Linked DNA regions of Homo sapiens. The protein of the gene in region 2 purifies or fractionates together with the protein of the main gene of each other region. This does not show direct contact. Each region holds a gene or a part of one and is shown on either strand. Other genes may lie near its edges.

Evidence for each region.
Region 1: the proteins of SPX (region 2) and BTD purify together in Homo sapiens (affinity purification with mass spectrometry; one large-scale study listed by BioGRID and IntAct). This does not show direct contact.
Region 3: the proteins of SPX (region 2) and NCEH1 purify together in Homo sapiens (affinity purification with mass spectrometry; one large-scale study listed by BioGRID and IntAct). This does not show direct contact.

The regions. Positions count from the first base shown.
Region 1 is NC_000003.12:15,632,654-15,636,305, forward strand, and holds part of BTD (biotinidase isoform 1 precursor), read left to right. Parts: exon of another isoform or gene 1-213; intron 214-2,770; 5' UTR 2,771-2,786; coding exon 2,787-3,035; intron 3,036-3,652. UniProt on the Homo sapiens protein: Catalytic release of biotin from biocytin, the product of biotin-dependent carboxylases degradation.
Region 2 is NC_000012.12:21,524,763-21,528,514, forward strand, and holds the start of SPX (spexin precursor), read left to right. Parts: upstream 1-1,533; 5' UTR 1,534-1,710; coding exon 1,711-1,716; intron 1,717-2,123; coding exon 2,124-2,204; intron 2,205-2,372; coding exon 2,373-2,430; intron 2,431-2,768; exon of another isoform or gene 2,769-2,964; coding exon 2,965-3,027; intron 3,028-3,189; exon of another isoform or gene 3,190-3,389; intron 3,390-3,752. UniProt on the Homo sapiens protein: Plays a role as a central modulator of cardiovascular and renal function and nociception. Also plays a role in energy metabolism and storage. Inhibits adrenocortical cell proliferation with minor stimulation on corticosteroid release.
Region 3 is NC_000003.12:172,700,926-172,704,577, reverse strand, and holds part of NCEH1 (neutral cholesterol ester hydrolase 1), read left to right. Parts: intron 1-3,652.

The DNA.
Region 1 (3,652 bases), on a different chromosome or scaffold from region 2:
CCCCTTGTTCCCAGGAAGGCCCCGCACCCCAGTCGTCCCGTGCATAACCTCACGGGCCAGCACCTGGTAGCTGCTGGAAGGCTTCTGGGGGATGCCTGGGCCCCTCCAGCCCTACCTCTAGTCCTGCCACTTTACAACTGAGCACCTCCCGCTGCTGCCTGCTGAACCCTTCAGAGTCCTTGCCACAGGCCCTATTTACTTTTTCCTGAGAAGGTATGTGTGATGCCAAAGAGAGAAAAGCAGCATTTGCTAATTTGGGTAAAATGTTTCTTTGGGAAGGGCAAATTGATGTACAGTTGTCCCTCAGTATCTGTTGGGACTGGTTCCAGGACCCCGTGGATACCGAAACCCTCAGATGCTCAAGTCCCTTATATCAAATGGTGTAGAATTTACATGTAACCTAAACACTTCCTCCTGTACACTTTAAATCATCTCTAGATCCCTTACACTACCTAATACAAACTAAATGCTATATAAATAATTGTTATACTGTATTTTTTAAATTGCTATTATTTTTTATTGTTGTGCTATTATTTTTATTGGGCTCCCTCCTCCCCCTCCCACCCCAGTAATTTCAATCCAAGGTTGGTGGAATCCATGGATGCAGAAACAATGGATACTGAGGGCCGGCTGACTAGACCTATTTTTATTGTAATTACTCATTCTCTTCTACCTCATTAAGCTTGGTTCTTTCAAGCATGAATACCTGGTTGAATCTGCATAACCTCTTATTATCGACCTACCTTTGTTCACACACAAATGATTGCCACTTAGAGCTCTCCTACCGGGCTCCTTTTGTAAAATAAATTTTATCTTCTCCAGATAGAAAGAAATGTGATACCTTGCGGATTTTGCGGTTTCCTTGTTTTGCTGGATTGCAAGTCCTTTAGACATAAACAAATGTTCTGTACCCCGACATCGGTGGTACCCAGCTCTCAGTTGAGAAAGAGATGTAATGTGAATGCCACTCTTGGCCCCAGGCACTCCTCACTTGCCCCCACTGGGGACTGGTTCATACCCTCCTCTCCTGGCCTCAGTTTCCATACCTCTTAGTGAGGCCTTTGCGTTATACTTCAGAAATATTGTCAGTATGACTTTGAAGATGAAAGTTTGCCCCCAAAATCACTCTCTGTTATCATTGTGAAACCAGAGATGGAATGGAAAAATGGGTTTCTGAGACATTTTAAATTATTCCTTGCTTGTCTTTAGAGGCAAAATTCAGATAAGAAAGCTTATCAATTATACTTTTGTTTCTACTCAAAAACTCATGACTGCTCACTCAAAGACTCCTTGTTCTTATCTTAAAACATTGTTTACAGTGTCCCAGATGAATGGCAACAAATCCTGGGGTTTGGTGTTTGGATGGTACATTTCCCTGGGGAAAGAAATAACAGTTTGAGATGGAACCGGGTTGGGGTGGGAGAATACTTCTCATTCTGAGGAATATTTAATTTTGCCAAGATGAGCATTTCTAGTTCTTAGTCTGTTGACGAAAAGAGCTATGGTTTGTTTCTGGAACTTTTGATAAAAAATAAAGAAATTTGTAGCCTGGGGAGTTTGGTTTTAAAATGCAAACACAGGAGTTATGAGTTGAGACTTGGACAGGGTGTCATTTTCTTTTTAAAGGGCAGCAATATGATTCTTTGATTTGTCTTTGTTATCTTGACTTTTAATCCGGATTCCTGGGCAGTTGTTCAGCCCCAGGACATCTCCATGGGCAGGTGGCCTGGCCTTGGCACACTACCCAGTAAATCTCTGCCTGAGAGGACGCTTTAGCTGGGAGGCCAGGCTGATTTTTAAAGGCAGAATTGGACTATTTACTCTAAAACAGTAATGCACACTGTTTAGAAAGAAACATTCCTATTCTGGGAGGAAGGAGGAGACACACAGAAGTATCATTTATTTCTAGTCTTTTCTGGTAGAAGCTATGAAGCTGAGTTTACTCTCTGGAAATTTGTAGTTTATTTTCTAGAAAATTGCATTTTATCACTGCAAAAAGGATTTTATTTCCAAATGAGTAGGCTTTTGAGCAAGAGTTTTGGAGTCACAGAGATGGGGTTAAGAAAGTGATAATGTGCAATGGCGATTCTCAAGTTCAAGGAGAAAAAATAACATGCTTTTATTGGGATACTTTGCTTGTCTATAAAAGAAAGTAGCTATTGGCATTTATGTAGAAGTCAGCAGTTTCTTGGCACCAAATAAATAATTTTGTGCTGAATAAAGGGAGAGTTATCCATAGTATTTATTACTAACCAAAGAAATGCAGGGAGAATTGTAATTCATTAGGTTTTGATGGCCAGGAAAGCCAAGCTGTGTTATTAGGGTCATGACAATCACAGACATTACGGATGGCTGACCTGTAGTATGGATAGAGGGCAGAGGGTAGAGTGTGAAATATATCACAGAATTATGTCAAATAATCTGGATAGTTACTACTGCTTAAAATCTAAGTGCACAGCTAGAAAAGTGGGTAGTGACGCACTACAGTCTTGCTGAACACTGGGTAAGAAAATCATAGCAAACGTTGAGTCTGTTTTGGAAATGTTCTAAAACCAGACTATTAACACAGTGAGCCATTTTAAATGTGGCTTGCTACGTGTTTGGAGAGAAACACATACTCTTTTATTAGGAACATGAAACAAACTCTTTGAGCCGCAGTATCACTGCGAGTGAGTTTAATTGCTGGGATTAATAAATCACAGCTGCAAACGTTAAATTCTTGGCAGGATTCTTTATTCAGCTGTTTTCCCCTTGCCCCATTACATTCCAGATTTGTGGTCTGCATTATGTCTGGAGCCAGAAGTAAGCTTGCTCTTTTCCTCTGCGGCTGTTACGTGGTTGCCCTGGGAGCCCACACCGGGGAGGAGAGCGTGGCTGACCATCACGAGGCTGAATATTATGTGGCTGCCGTGTATGAGCATCCATCCATCCTGAGTCTGAACCCTCTGGCTCTCATCAGCCGCCAAGAGGCCTTGGAGCTCATGAACCAGAACCTTGACATCTATGAACAGCAAGTGATGACTGCAGCCCAAAAGGCAAGAATGCTCCTCGGAACCTGAGTTTCTCTCATACAGAGCAGATTGCTCTTTACCCCTTGATCAGTGGTTGGGTAATCCCAGGCTTCCTACCACCCTCTGAAAAAGCATCCAGGTAGTTAACCTGAGTTGAGTTAGTCAGTTGAATTAGGAGCCTTACCCCTCAGAGAGTGGTCCGTGGACCGGCATCCCCTGGGAGCTTGTTAGAAATACAAAATCTTGGGCGGCACCCCAGACCTACTGAATCAGAATGTGCATTGCAGCAGGATCCCCAGGTGATGCTTTCACATGGCAAGTATGAGAAGCCCAGGACTAGATCCCCAGTTCTCAAGTGTGGTTGTACATAAGAATCACGAGGTAAGTGGTAAACACTATGGCTGCCCGGGTCCTGGAGAGTCCGTTGTAATTGGTGTGGAAGGGGTGTGGACTGGCACTGGGATTGTTTTAAGGCTCCCCAGTGCAGTCTAATGTGCAGAAAAATTTGAAGATGACTGGGCGTGATGACCTCTCTGAGTCATTCGAAGCTTCACTGAAGTAGTAAGCATCTGCAAGAATGCCGTTTGCTCCCTTCAGACTGTTTGAGGCTCGTTTCCGGTCTCTATGTCGGACTACGATCA
Region 2 (3,752 bases):
TCTATCAAGTTTTGCATTTCTAACCTTCTATTTTGTACTTGTACTTGGATATTTTTAATATACATTTTAATTTTAATATGCCTATATGGCAAGTGTTAATTTCCCTCTCATAACTTGCTTCTTAAGAAGTTTCTCTAATTTCAGTAAATTACTTCATAATTTACCCACAGTTTTATCCATAAACCTAAGAATCATCCTTGATTTATTTTTCTCACACTTTCATATCCCTTTTATATACAAGTTCTATATTTTCTACCTCCACAACATGTATTCCAAATTCATTTACAGCTCTTCTTTCCCTGTGTGTACCATCCCAGTGTAAGCCATCATCATCTATTGCTTATAATCGTATTTCCACATCAACTGGCCCATTTCTTCTTCTCCAATCTCATTTCAAAGCACCTCCCCCGTTCACCCACACAACGCTGCCTCCATTGGCCTCTTTCCTAGTCCCCAAGCAAGTCATGCTCTTTGCTGTCCACAGATTTTGCTTTTCTTTCTTCTATTGAGAATGCCTGGAATACTAATTCCTGCCCAGCTTCTCCCATTACTTCACCTTATCCTTCAAGACTACCCTCTGTTTTTAACCTTCCCTAAAGTAGCCCACCACTTATCCTATCACATCACCTTGCTTACTTTTACTTAACAATTTAAAACATTCTGTAGTTACAGTAGTCCCTGCTTATCCACGGTTTCACTTTCCATGGTTTCAGTTACCCATGGTCAACTACAGTCTGAAAATATTAAATGGGAAATTCCAGAATTAATAAGTTTAAATTGTGAGCTTTAAATCTGAGTAGGGTGTTGAAATCTCTCACTGTCCAGCTCCAGCCCACCCAAGACATGAACCATCTTTTTGTCCAGCATGTCCATATGTAAACACCACTCTCCCATTAATCAGTTAGTAACCATCTTGGTGAACAGATAAAAAAAAATAGTATAATAAGGCATATACGTATCAGTGGTTTCAGGCATCCACTGTGGGTCTTGAAACATGCTCCTCCACCCCACACACACCTACGATTAAGGGGTAACTACTGTGTCTTATTTATCTATTCATCAGTTTACTGTGTACCTTAACTAGTAGGTAACTTAGATCAAAGCAGAGACCATGTCTTTTCAGTGCATGGCTGTGTCCCTTGAAATACAAGGATTGTGTGTCTCATAGGCACTCAATAAATATTTGCTAAACAACAGAATGAATTGATAATTAAGTGAATGACTGATGTCAAATTCCATTGAGATTCCCAAACCTTTTCATACATCTTTAGCCATCAGTGATAGACTGATGGCTAGTTACCCAAGAAAAGTTTTCTGATTTATTCTTTTACTTTTGATTCTGCCTTGGACTATTGATTGTTTTCATTAATAATAATAATAACATGTTACTTTGGGCAGCTAGTAGGAAAAGCAAGGCCAATGATGCTGACACATTCTGAAGGCCTCCTGGGTGATGCAATCAGTATTTAAACAAATAATTTCTGCCCATCAATCATTCCTCTACTTCCTGCAATGAAGCTCCCTGGAGGAGTCATCAGATTCTCAATCTTGCTTGAAGACTGACAAGATGTCCCTGTGGACTCCCAAACTCTACTCCAGATGGGGAGGTGCCCTTAACACCAAGATTTTAAAAGCTCCAATTTCAGAGCAAGAGTCGAAAACTCACAGATAAAGTTATAGTTATTTCAGGGTTCTGAAAAGACGCAGAACATGAAGGTAAGTAAAGGCTTTATTAACTTGAGACTTCTTAGCTATTTTTTAAAACGTTTTATAGCATTTTACCTATTTCATGTTTAATAAGGATTTTAGAGTTTAAAGGATATTTGAACGATACGCCTTTAGAATAACAGAATCATTTGATTTTACTAAGAAAAAAATTCACGTATTTACTTATTCTTCATTTGGGTGAAGTAATACAAATAATATGTTTCTAAATACGTTTTTTCAAGTGGACTCTTTGTGAATTAACTAGAAGGTAGAAGGGAAACACCTCCAGAAAACTGAGTATTAAAACAGAATATTGCGAGAAGTAAGGGGGTTTATAATTGTCCAGGCGTCAAGGAAGGAAGCAGAAGATCCTATTGGCACAGAAATGACCCTTTCTGGTTGATCGCTTCATATAGGGACTCAGAAGTCTGGCAGCAACAACCTTGGCTCTTTTCCTGGTGTTTGTTTTCCTGGGAAACTCCAGCTGCGCTCCGCAGGTAATCAAATGCAAAATAAAAAATTTTAAAACAATGCGCACTGTGTGTCCACTCTGCTCTTTCTTTCTTCCTTCTTGTTTTATTCTCTTCTTTTTCCTTTATTTTGCTGTAATAGAGGACTGAGCTGCAATGTTTTATTAACTGCTCTTCCCTTCCCCCGGGCTATAGAGACTGTTGGAGAGAAGGAACTGGACTCCTCAAGCTATGCTCTACCTGAAAGGGGCACGTAAGTTCCAAATATTTCGCTCTTCCTACAATAATGGAAGACCCCTAGGAGTCAGGAACAGATAGATGGAGAGTTATGGAGAGAGAATAATGTCGAGTTTATTCCCTTAAATCATCGAGGCCATCAAAGAGACCGGTAGGTGAGGGAGGGGTGGGAGAGGGGAAGAGTCCCTGATTATTGGAAATCCTCCATCCTTATTAGAAATTCTCCATCCAAAACTGGAGGGTTGCTTCTCTTGGTCCAAATGGGGACTCGGGTTGCCTGGGAAATATCTCAGTAACCCGACCTCCGCTCCAAAGCGCCCTTGCGGCGTCCGGTCAGGCGCGGGGCTTTCCTCCAGAGCTCCAGGGCCCCTGGCTCAGCCCGGGGTTGCGCTGGGAGCGCTGGAAACTCGGCAGCCCCGCGCGACCCTATCCTGGAGCAACCTGCCCCCTCCCCACGCCCGGGGACTGCGCTGTGCCGGGAGGAGCTGAGGTTTAAGCCCGGGTTGTCCCGGGCCAGGCTGTCGCTGAGCCCCAGGTCTCGTTTTTGCAGAGGGTCGCCGCTTCATCTCCGACCAGAGCCGGAGAAAGGACCTCTCCGACCGGCCACTGCCGGGTGAGTGACCAAGGGTGCAAGGGCGCTAGTCCTGCGCTTTTGGAATAGGATGGGGCGGGCAGGGCTTGCTCCGCGCTGGTGCCGAAAGAAAGCGTCTCCTCACCGGAAAGACGCGGCTCTGAGGCGCCCTCAGATACAGTCCGCCCGAGGGCAGCCCGGGTTGGCAGCAGCAGCAGCTGGATGCCGAGCGCCGGAGCTGGGAGCTCGCGCGTCCAGCCCCGCGCCAATGGTGGCAAGGGCGGCCCAGGCTGGCGCTGCGGCTCCCCAAGCCTTATTGGCTTGCGGCTGTTCAGCCAGCCCTCTGGCTGCCAGGGTGTGCAGAGGTCCCCAGGGAGTTAGGACCTGAGGTGCAGCTCAGAGGGGTAAGGCGAGATAGGAAGAACTATGCAAATGCTTCTAGAAATGTATCTGCGCGTTTGTGCAGGAACTTTACTCAGCCTCCTCTTAAACGCTGTTATTATTAAAATAAGAACTTACCTAGGAACTTCAAATGTATGCTTTTGTTTGACTAGAAAGAACTATCAAAGGTTCAAAATCAAAAGAGTAACATGCGGGCAGTTAAGGATGGGACCGGGGACTGTTCTTTTTCATGATAAACCTTTCCATCGTATTGTATTAACAAATAACAATACAATTTGATGAAATTGTAAAGATTGAAATGCTAAAATTAAAAAGTATACTTACTTGGAAAAATACCAAACACTGTTGAACACATAGTAGGTGCT
Region 3 (3,652 bases), on a different chromosome or scaffold from region 2:
CAAGGAGCTGGTCTGGCAAAACAGAAATGTGTAAGGCAGAAACCTAAACTTGAGAAGCTTACAGTCAAGTGAAGGATGATAAACCAACTGCCAGTGATAGGGTAGGTGCTTGAATGATGGAAGGAAAATGTGGCTAAAGGTAATAATGGTGTCCCAAGAGAGCTCGGAGCATGAGCCTGGCTTGTCTTGATTATTTTCTAACTTACTACTGCTTACACTATGAATCTTTTCAGTGACACAATGTAAAAGAAGTGCTGAAATTGGTATTTATGCTGAGTGTTCCCCCTGTTTCTTATGGGTGACAGTGCTTTTGGACTAGTTGATCAAGGATTTTTATCTTGCCAAATGTCCCCAAACTTGTTGAGATTTAATGTCACCTCACCTGAATTCTCTGTGCATGATGTGCTTTTGGGCTGTGTGGGTGTGGTTTAAATGACAGCTCAGCTGGAAACTGTGCAGAACTTCAACGTGCTAATAATCTCTTTCATAACAGTTTTGAACTGGAATATTTACTATTGTCAGGTGAATTTAACTTTAAAACATCAGTAAATAATGATTGTCCAGAAATTATGATGATGCGTATTTCTTCATGCACATTAGTAACTTCACTAACCACAATTTTTAGCTGATTTGCTAGGATTTTTCTTTAAACATATGGAGGCAAAAGGTTTTAAGAATAGTGTCAGGGGCATTATTTAATCAGTGTTAGTTCTGACAGGTGAACAACCTGAGTTGGTCTCTGCAGATAGTACCTATGAAACATTAAGGTCAGATTGATTCAGCTACCTGGTGTGTAAGATAATGCCCAATTTATAGTTTCCTTTTTATTTTTTCTGGTACTTCTACAAATATAACCCTGAGCATAGAAATACCCTCATTATTTTAATGGGACATCCTATTTCTACCATGCAATTTGAGCTTGATCTGAGACATTTCTGTGAAGTGTGAAAGTACAGTTAATCATTCTTAAATGTTCTTTTTATGCACAATTGCTTCTTTTAAAATAGCATTTTAAAATAGCATATATTTACTTTTTTTTTTTTTTTTTTTGAGACAGAGTCTTGCTCTGTCACTCAGGCGGGAATGCAATGGTGCGATCTCGGCTCACTGCAACCTCCGCCTCCCAGGTTCAAGCAGTTCTCCCGCCTCAGCCTCCCGAGTAGCTGGGATTACAGGCCCCCGCCATGATGCCCGGCTAATTTTTTTTTGTATTTTTGTAGGGATGGGGTTTCACCATGTTGGCCAGGCTGGTCTCAAACTCCTGACCTCAGGTTATCCACCCGCCTTGGCCTTCTAAAGTGCTGGGATTACAGGGGTGAGCCACTGCACCCAGCCATATTTACTTTTCTAAAGAAAATATGTAACACTGCAAATGTGTGTCATCCTTCTGCAGGGGCATGCTAGTCCTCTCTGAACTGTTATGGTTTTAGTGTATGTGCTGCTGAAGTGAGCACCATATATTTACTTTTGCTGCCAAATGAAATTATGTGGGAACTGTCTACCACTTCTCTTTCATTTTATGTTTATATAGAATGAAGAAATGTAATTGAATTTATTTTCGTTTTTTACTTTTTATTTTTTTCTTACAGACAAGGTCTTGCTCTGTCACCCAGGCAGGGATGCAGTGGTGTGATCACAGCTCACTGCAACCTTGAACTTCTGGGCTCAAGGGATCCTCCTGCCTCAGCCTTTTGAGTAGCTGGGACTACAGGCGCGTGCCACCATGCCTGGCTATATTTTTCTTTTTTTATTTTTTAGGAGAGACAAAGTCTTGCTATGTTGCCCAGGCTGGTCTCAAACTCCTGGGCTCAAGTGATCCTCTTGCTTTGGCTTCCCAAAGTGCTGGGATCACAGGCATAAGCCACCGTGCCTACCTGTAATTGAATTTTCAAGTGAAAAACCTGACTATATCGCCTGCCTAATCTAAGGTGTGTCATATTGTGAAATTTTAACAAGCTCTCTTTCAGTGTTTAATAAAATTAAAACCCTGGACGTCATCACATATTAAATATTAAGGAGCTGGTCTGGCAAAACAGAAATGTGTAAGGCAGATACCTAATCTTGAGAAGCTTACAGTCAAGTGAGGGATGATAAACCAACTGCCAGCGATAAGGTGGGCACTTGAATGATGGAAGGAGAATTATGATAGAGGCATCTGTGGATTGCTGCAAGAGCCTTGGAAAGAACATCTAAAGTGGACCTGGGCACTGGGGAAACGTATCTAATCTGAGATGTCAAGGTTGAGTGCCTATAGTAAAAATATCTATTGAGCATATAGTGAGCATTTACTCTGTGGCAGATACTGTGCTATGTGCTTTGTGTTCAATTAGTTTAGCCCATGGTAATACAATCAGGCAGGTGTTCTTTATGTGACAAAGGAGGAGACCGAAATGCAAAGAAAAGTGACTTGCTTAAGATGACACCGTTTATACGAGGTGGAGCCTGAATTCGATTCCAGCCTGTGTTACTCCTGAACTCAAGAGTTTAGATTTGTGCTAGATTTCCTTATAATAGAAACCAGAGAAGAGAAGGGTGAAAGGGGCATTCCAGCCAGAAGCAGCAGTATGTGAAAGTTCTGTGGGAGAGGATGGTGTAGCTGAGGAACTACAAGTGGTTTAGACTGGCTGGAGCTTAAAGTTCAAAGGTCAGAGAGGGAGGCAGAAGGGAAGCACCAGTCAGGTGAGGAAGAGCTCTGTGGAGGAGAAAGGAGCAACTGACAGTCTTCTAGCAGAGAAGTCACATGCTCAAAACTGTGTTTTAGAATAGTCCTTCTCAGTGGCAGTGTAGACACTGGAATGTAAGAAAGCAAAAGTAGGCCAGGCGTGGTCGCTTACAACTGTAATCCCAGCACTTTGGGAGGCTGAGGCAGGCGGATCACAAGGTCACGAGTTTGAGACCAGCCTGGCCGGTATGGTGAAACCCAGTCTCTACTAAAAATACAAAAAAAAAAAAAAAAAAAAACTAGCTGGGCATGGTGGCACGCGTCTGTAGTCCCAGCTACTCGGGAGGCTGAGGCAGGAGAATCCCTTGAATCTGGGAGGTGGAGGTTGCAGTCAGCCAAGATTGCACCACTGCACTCCAGCCTGGGCAATAGAGGGAGACTCCGTCTTTAAAAAAAAAAAAAAAAAGGCAAAAGACCATCTAGGAAGCACTAATCCAGGTGAGAGCATGAACTAACAAAGTGGGACTGATTTGGAGGAAAGCTGATCAGAGTTGCTGTTGGAGGGGAGAGTATGGAGCATCGGAGAGGAAGGAGTCAAAGATGACTCCTGGGACAGATTCTGGAATAGCTGGGTGAATGGGGACCATGACCCTGATTTGGGAGCAAGAGCAGATCTGAGGGTGAAGATATAGAGTTTGGGACCCTGTTTTGAAGTGTCAGTGGACTAGTCCAAGGATGGCTGATCATAAACAGCTGCATATACAGATCCAGAGCTCAGGAGACAGAGCTGGGCTGGTGATATGGATTTGGGAGTAGTCAGCAAATGGATAGTGGCAGAAGTAGTTGAAATGAATGTGTTTGGAGTGACAGTAAGATCTGGAGGATTTTACCAAGGGTGCCCCTCAGGGACACCAGTGGCAAGTGGAAAAAGAGGCTATCCCTGAGAGAAATGAGACCTTAACATAACTTTTTAGTATACCTCATATTTAT